Regions from separate parts of the Homo sapiens genome. Here region 2 is reported to be linked to region 1. The links are microRNA targets in miRTarBase. Many come from high-throughput screens and were not tested one by one. Region 1 holds a microRNA gene; the other region holds the end of a gene's coding sequence.
Evidence for each region. Region 1 holds the annotated microRNA hsa-miR-4260 (CUUGGGGCAUGGAGUCCCA, at 1,953-1,971, shown strand). A microRNA usually pairs through its seed, bases 2 to 8, with sites in the 3' UTR of a target mRNA and lowers its output. Matches are read on the target gene's strand: a 7mer-m8 pairs with bases 2 to 8, a 7mer-A1 pairs with bases 2 to 7 and ends in A, and an 8mer does both.

Region 1 (3,000 bases):
GTGATGTGACAGAGCCACATGACCACCGAAGGGCAGAGCTGGGCCTCAGAACACAGTCCAGGAGCCCAAGCCCAGCGTTCTTTTAAGTGCCCAGTGCTGCCTGTGGGAGAGAGTCAGCTCTGGATTAGTCACCCTGGCGGAGGGCATCCGAGAGGCAGGGGCTCTAAAAATAACTCACGTGTGGCTTTGGAATGGAAGTTGGTCCCGCCCACACCCCCATCCCACCAGCAGAGGTGCCTTCTTAGTGAGGTTCAGTTCTGGAAGCTTCTATAATTAGTTTGCATTCCCTGAGCACTGGCTTTCTGACTGTGCACAGAGCCATCCAGGTGTGTGAGTGGTGGGGAAGGAAAAGGCAGCCTGAGAAGAATGAAAATGGAGGCTCCGTGACTCACGATGTGCTAGAGCTTCTGGCTGGGGGCTCCGGGAGAGGAACTCAAGCGAATATTGAAAACCAACCTACCTTCCTTCCTTCCTTCTTTTCCTTCTTTTTTCCTTCCTTCCTTCCTTCCCTTTTTTTCCTTCCTTCCTTCCTTCCTTCCTTCCTTCCTTCCTTCCTTCCTTCCTTCCTTCCTCTCTCTCTTTCTTTCTCTTTACATAATTTTAGAGCATCTATGATGAAACAAGCATTGTACAGGCATTGGGGATATTGAAATTAGTATGACATAATCTTTGCGCTCAAGAAGCTCGCACTGGGGAGAATGATGTGTAAATGGTAAACTATAATGTGACGCATGTTATAATGTGTCATGGCAGGCTTCACAGAGGTGCCTTCTGACCTAAGTCTCAGATTCGGGCAGTCAGTCCACCAGATTCAGTAGGTTGGAAACACAGGCATGGAGGGGCATTCCATGGAAGGGCGTTCTGTGCCTGATCAAAGCCTGGAGGTGGAGAATGTGAGGCTTGGAGGAGGGAGCTGGTGGTTGGGTTGGTGGAGCTGCAAAGGGCACAGGGAGAGAGGACTCTCCAAGAGCTCAGTGGCCAAGGGCCTGGGAGGTAGACTCTGAGCCTCCTTCGGGGGGATGACCAGCTGGCAGCAGTGATGGGATCTGGAGCTGAGTGGGAGGTGTGGACTGTGGAAGAGATTTTGGAGCTGCAGCTGTACAGATGGTAGCTGAAGCCAGCCCATAGAGAGCGAAGGAGGAGGGCATCAGGGCATTGCTCCTCATGGAAGCCAGGATCTGGAAGAGGGGGAGGAGAATTGGGAATGTTGGGTCATAGAAGTCAAGGGAGGAGAGTTTTGTGGCTCCATCTGCACCTGGACAGAGAAAGATTGTGCTGGTCGCCAAGCCTCTGTCCAGCGGAACCCCCTTAGCCTGTGGATTCTCTGTTCTGTTGCCTTTGCCCAAGGTCTCTGTTTGTTCTGACTCAGTAGCAGTTGCTCTGAGGGGATAGCTGCTTTGGGGAGGCAAAACTCCCTCCTATATTTTAGTGTAAGCTCCTCTCCCTTCTCAGGCGAACTCTCCAGGGCCTGCAGCTGGATCTGCCCCTGGAGGAGGAGACGTTGTCCCTTCCGAGAGACCTGGAGAGTCTTGACAGAAGCTTCAATGGTCTCCTTACTATGTATCAGAGGAAGAGGGAGCAGTTTGAAAAAATAAGCAGTGCTGATCCTTCAGGTGAGGAGAGGGGCACCCGGATAACCCCGGGCATGGGCACTGCCGTGGTGGGCATGCCACCCCCTCTCCCTCCTGCTCCTCCTCCATCTCCATTCCTCATGCTTCTCGCCACAGGAGCCTTCCGGATGCTGAGCACAGCCTACGAGCAGTCAGCCCAGGCTGCTCAGCAGGTCTCCGACAGCTCGCGCCTTTTGGACCAGCTCAGGGACAGCCGGAGAGAGGCAGAGAGGCTGGTGCGGCAGGCGGGAGGAGGAGGAGGCACCGGCAGCCCCAAGCTTGTGGCCCTGAGGCTGGAGATGTCTTCGTTGCCTGACCTGACACCCACCTTCAACAAGGTGACTTGGGGCATGGAGTCCCACTTCCTGGAGCCCACACCCCAGCTTGTCACACACCAACTGCTGCCACCTGCTTCCTATTAGGGCAGATCTGCCCCTGTGAGAACCCCACTCCCCCAGCCATCCCGACCCTTGTACTGCTCACTGTGAGCTCAGTGGTTGCCAAGGAAACCAGTTTCTGGTCCTTAGCTCTCATGGAGATGTCTGGCTGTTTCTGGTGCTTGGTTGTCATGGAGATGTCTGGCTGTTGGTTTCCCAGGTGTGGGGTGGGATTGGTTATTGAGGGGCTTTGGGTAGCCTCTTTAACACCGCCATCTGTCCACAGCTCTGTGGCAACTCCAGGCAGATGGCTTGCACCCCAATATCATGCCCTGGTGAGCTATGTCCCCAAGACAATGGCACAGCCTGTGGCTCCCGCTGCAGGGGTGTCCTTCCCAGGGCCGGTGGGGCCTTCTTGATGGCGGGGCAGGTGGCTGAGCAGCTGCGGGGCTTCAATGCCCAGCTCCAGCGGACCAGGCAGATGGTAAGTGCAGCCGAGGCGGGGTGGGCACAGGTAGGAGGAGGCAGACAGGATAGATCCCCCGGGCAAGTCAGAGTTCCCATTTTACACTAAAGTCCAGAGATTTTAGGTGACCTGCTTAAGGTGCCACAGCAAGTGCAAGATAGTTTTTTTTCTCTTTTACTGAACATCCACATGTAAGCTGGGTTGGTTACAAATGCTTCCTAGGTAGGTCTTGGCATAGAGGATGATCCGCAGAATCGTGGGGCTGCTGAGAGGTTCCCTTGGGGCCTTACCCCTTCTGACCTAGAGTGTATGTCAACAGATTAGGGCAGCCGAGGAATCTGCCTCACAGATTCAATCCAGTGCCCAGCGCTTGGAGACCCAGGTGAGCGCCAGCCGCTCCCAGATGGAGGAAGATGTCAGACGCACACGGCTCCTAATCCAGCAGGTCCGGGACTTCCTAACAGGTGAGCCCAGTCTCCACCCCACCTTGGCTGCTGTTCCAGTCCTGCCTGTCCCGCATTCCCATGTTCAGTGCATCAGCCAGCCC
Region 2 (3,074 bases), not on the chromosome of region 1:
GCCAGGCATAGTGGGCTCTAGGTGCAAATGAGACACATGGCATCTCTGCTCACATGGAGGTTTGATTCCAGGGGTGCCCTGGTTTTATCCAGGGTACGGTTTGTGCAGATTCCCTGGCCCTCTGTTGGAGAATCTTTGAGCAGACCTGCAGTGGGGGGTGATCCGGGTAGGCAGACCTGCAGTAGGGGGGCGATCCGGACAGGTAGAGAGAGGTCAGCGCCTCACTTCAGATGTCCTGCAGAGAGAGAAGGAGCCCCTGATCTTCCTCTATTTCCCAGGAATCTAGGAGTCAAATTCTTTCCTTTTCAGGGCCCTTTGATTGCCACAGCCTTCACCAATGGGTACCACTGAAGCAGGGGACGGTGGCAGGAGGTGAGGATGTGGGGGTGGGCAGGTGGTGGGGTGGCACTGGGGAAGCCTGTCCTGGGCCATCGAATCTGGGACACAGACCCCATCCCTGCCCTCAAGAACCACAGTCCCAGGGGAGACAGATCTTTATACCAGCTGTGGTCAATAAAGATGAAAAGCTGCTCACCCTACTCCATTTAAACACAGAAATCAAAGCAACAGTAAGGCTTCACATCCCACCTATCAGGTTGGCAAAGATTATTATTATTATTATTTTTGAGACAAGATATCGTTCTGTCACCCACACCTCCTGGGCTCAAGGGATCCTCCCACCTCAGACTCCTCCCGAGTAGCTGGGACTGCAAGCACCTGCCACCATGCCTGGCTAATTTTTTTACTTTTTTTGTAGAGACAGGGTTTCACTGTGTTGCCCAGGCTGGTCTCAAACTCCTGGGCTCAAGGGATCCTCCTGCCCTGGTCCCCCAAAGTGCTGGGATTACAGGTGTGAGCCACCAGCGCAGGCCACAAAGATTTTTTAAGATCGTTTATTATTATTACTATTATTTTATTTTATTTTTGTAGATGGAGTCTCGCTCTGTCACCCAGGCTGGAGTGCAGTGGCGCAATCTTGGCTCACTGCAAACTCGTCCCCTGGGTTCAAGCAATTCTCGTGTCTCAGCCTCCCGAGTAGCTGGGATTACAGGCATGTGCTACCGCACCCAGCTAATTTTGGTATTTTTTTTGTTTTTAGCAGAGACGAGTTTTGCCATGTTGGCCAGGCTGGTCTCAAACTCCTGGCCTCAAGTGATCCATCTGCCTCGGCCTCCCAAAGTGCTGGGATTACAGGGGTGAGCCACCGTGCCCAGCCCTATTATTATTATTTTTAATAGAGATGTGGTCTCACTGCCACCCAGGCTGGAGTGCAGTGTGCAATCACAGCTCGCTGCAGCCTGGAACTCCTAGGCTCAAGCCATCCTCCACCTCAGCCTCCCAAGTAGCGGGGACCACAAGAGCATGCCACCATGCCTGGCTAAGTTTTTAAAAAATTTTTTTGTAGAGATGGGGTCTCATTATGTGGCCCAGGTTGGTCTTGAACTCCTGGCTCAAACGATCTTCCTCTGCCTTGGCCTCCCAAAGTGCTGGGATTTCAGGCATGAGCCACCGGGCCCAGCCACAAAGATTTTTTAAGTTGAACACTGCCCAGCATTGATCAAGATATGGGAGAAGCAAGTAAGTACAGTGGCTCAGGGGTTCCCGGGGCAGTCTGGCAGTGTTTGTCCCAGTTTCAAACATTCATGCCCTTGGACCCAACAATTCCACTTCTAGGCATTTATTTTTAAAACTGCAAATAACTGAAATATCCATCAAAAGGAAAGTGGTTAAACAAATTAGTGTGTGTACAGTGGTATAGTACACAGCTATCAAAACAGGATACCTTGGCCGGGCGCAGTGGCTCACGCCTATAATCCCAGCACTTTGCGGGGCCAAGGCAGGCGGATCACCTGAGGTCAGGAGTTCTAGACCAGCCTGGACAACATGGTAAAACCCCATCTCTACTAAAAATACAAAACTTGGCTGGCGTGATGGTGCGCACTTGTAATCTCAGCTACTCGGGAGGCTGAGGGACAAGAATCGCTTGAACCCAGAAAGCGAAGGCTGCAGTGAGCCGAGATCAGGCCACTGCACTCCAGCCTGGGCAACAGAGCAAGACTCCACCTCAACAAACAAAAAACAACAGGATACCTCGACTTGTGGGACTGTGTACACGGCCATCACAGTGTCTATCCAGATGGTGGGAGACTGTGAGCCCATGACATTCTGTTCATTCACCCATTCATTTATGAGCCCCATTCCAGGAAAGAGGATGAACAAGACAGACAAAGTCCTCTCTCATTTCACAGGACAAAAATCAAGTGAACATATGAGATAATTCCAGACTGTGCATGACAGGGCTATTTTAGATGTGGGGTTTAGAGAAGGTATCTCTGAGAAGGGGACATTTAAATAAATCCAGCCATTCGAAATCTGGGGAAAGAGGCATCCAACCAGGGAACAGAAAGTGCAAAGTCTGGCTGGGTGTGGTGGCTCACATTCGTAATCCCAGATCTTTGGGAGGCCAAGGCAGGAGGATGGCTTGAGGACAAGAGTTTGAGACTAGCCTGGGCAATATAGTGAATCCCCATCTCTGCTACAACAACAAAAATGAGCAGAGTGTGTTTGCTTTCACCTGTAGTCCCAGATACTACCTGTAATCCCAGAGTCTCAGGAGGCTGAGGCAGGAGGATCACTTGAGCCTAGGGAGGTTGAGGCTGCAGTGAACTATGATCGCTGTCACTGCACTCCAGCCTGGGCAACAGAGCTGGACTCTGTCTCTAAAAAAATAAGAAGAAGAAAGTAGGTAGTTTACGAACAAAGCTCTTCTGGGAGAGAACTGGGGAGGGCTGCGTGTGCTCCGGGAGCCCCCATAACCTCCTGGCTGTGTTCCCAGCGCCCCAGCCTGCAGCTGACTGAGGACCACGAGTGAGCCAGCGAGGGGGCGGGAGACCTCAGCCGCAGCCGCCGCCCCCTCCCCTGCAGCGACTCGGACCCGCTACTGCCTGCCCCCAACTCCCCGGGCCCGGCCCCTGCCCTGCTGCCCCCAACAGCGTCTGGCTCCCCTACTAACGTCCCCCTCTTCGCCCTTGCCCCCATCCCCACCCGCCCCTCTCCCGGCCCTGCTTTTATTT

Region 2: miRTarBase lists MSI1 as a target of hsa-miR-4260. The part of its 3' UTR that is shown has no 7-base or 8-base seed match.

Annotation. Positions count from the first base shown.
Region 1 is chr1:209,622,453-209,625,452 of GRCh38, reverse strand. It overlaps MIR4260 (microRNA 4260), which reads left to right and starts at 1,943; the gene lies at 1,943-2,009. LAMB3 (laminin subunit beta 3) reads left to right here. Exons shown (of 23, transcript NM_000228.3): 15 at 1,453-1,613; 16 at 1,728-1,948; 17 at 2,274-2,471; 18 at 2,773-2,917.
Region 2 is chr12:120,342,868-120,345,941 of GRCh38, reverse strand. MSI1 (musashi RNA binding protein 1) reads left to right here. Exons shown (of 15, transcript NM_002442.4): 14 at 310-372; 15 at 2,837-3,074. The coding sequence ends at 351. Among named protein-coding and RNA genes, the nearest start is that of PLA2G1B, 17 kb to the right of the region's middle.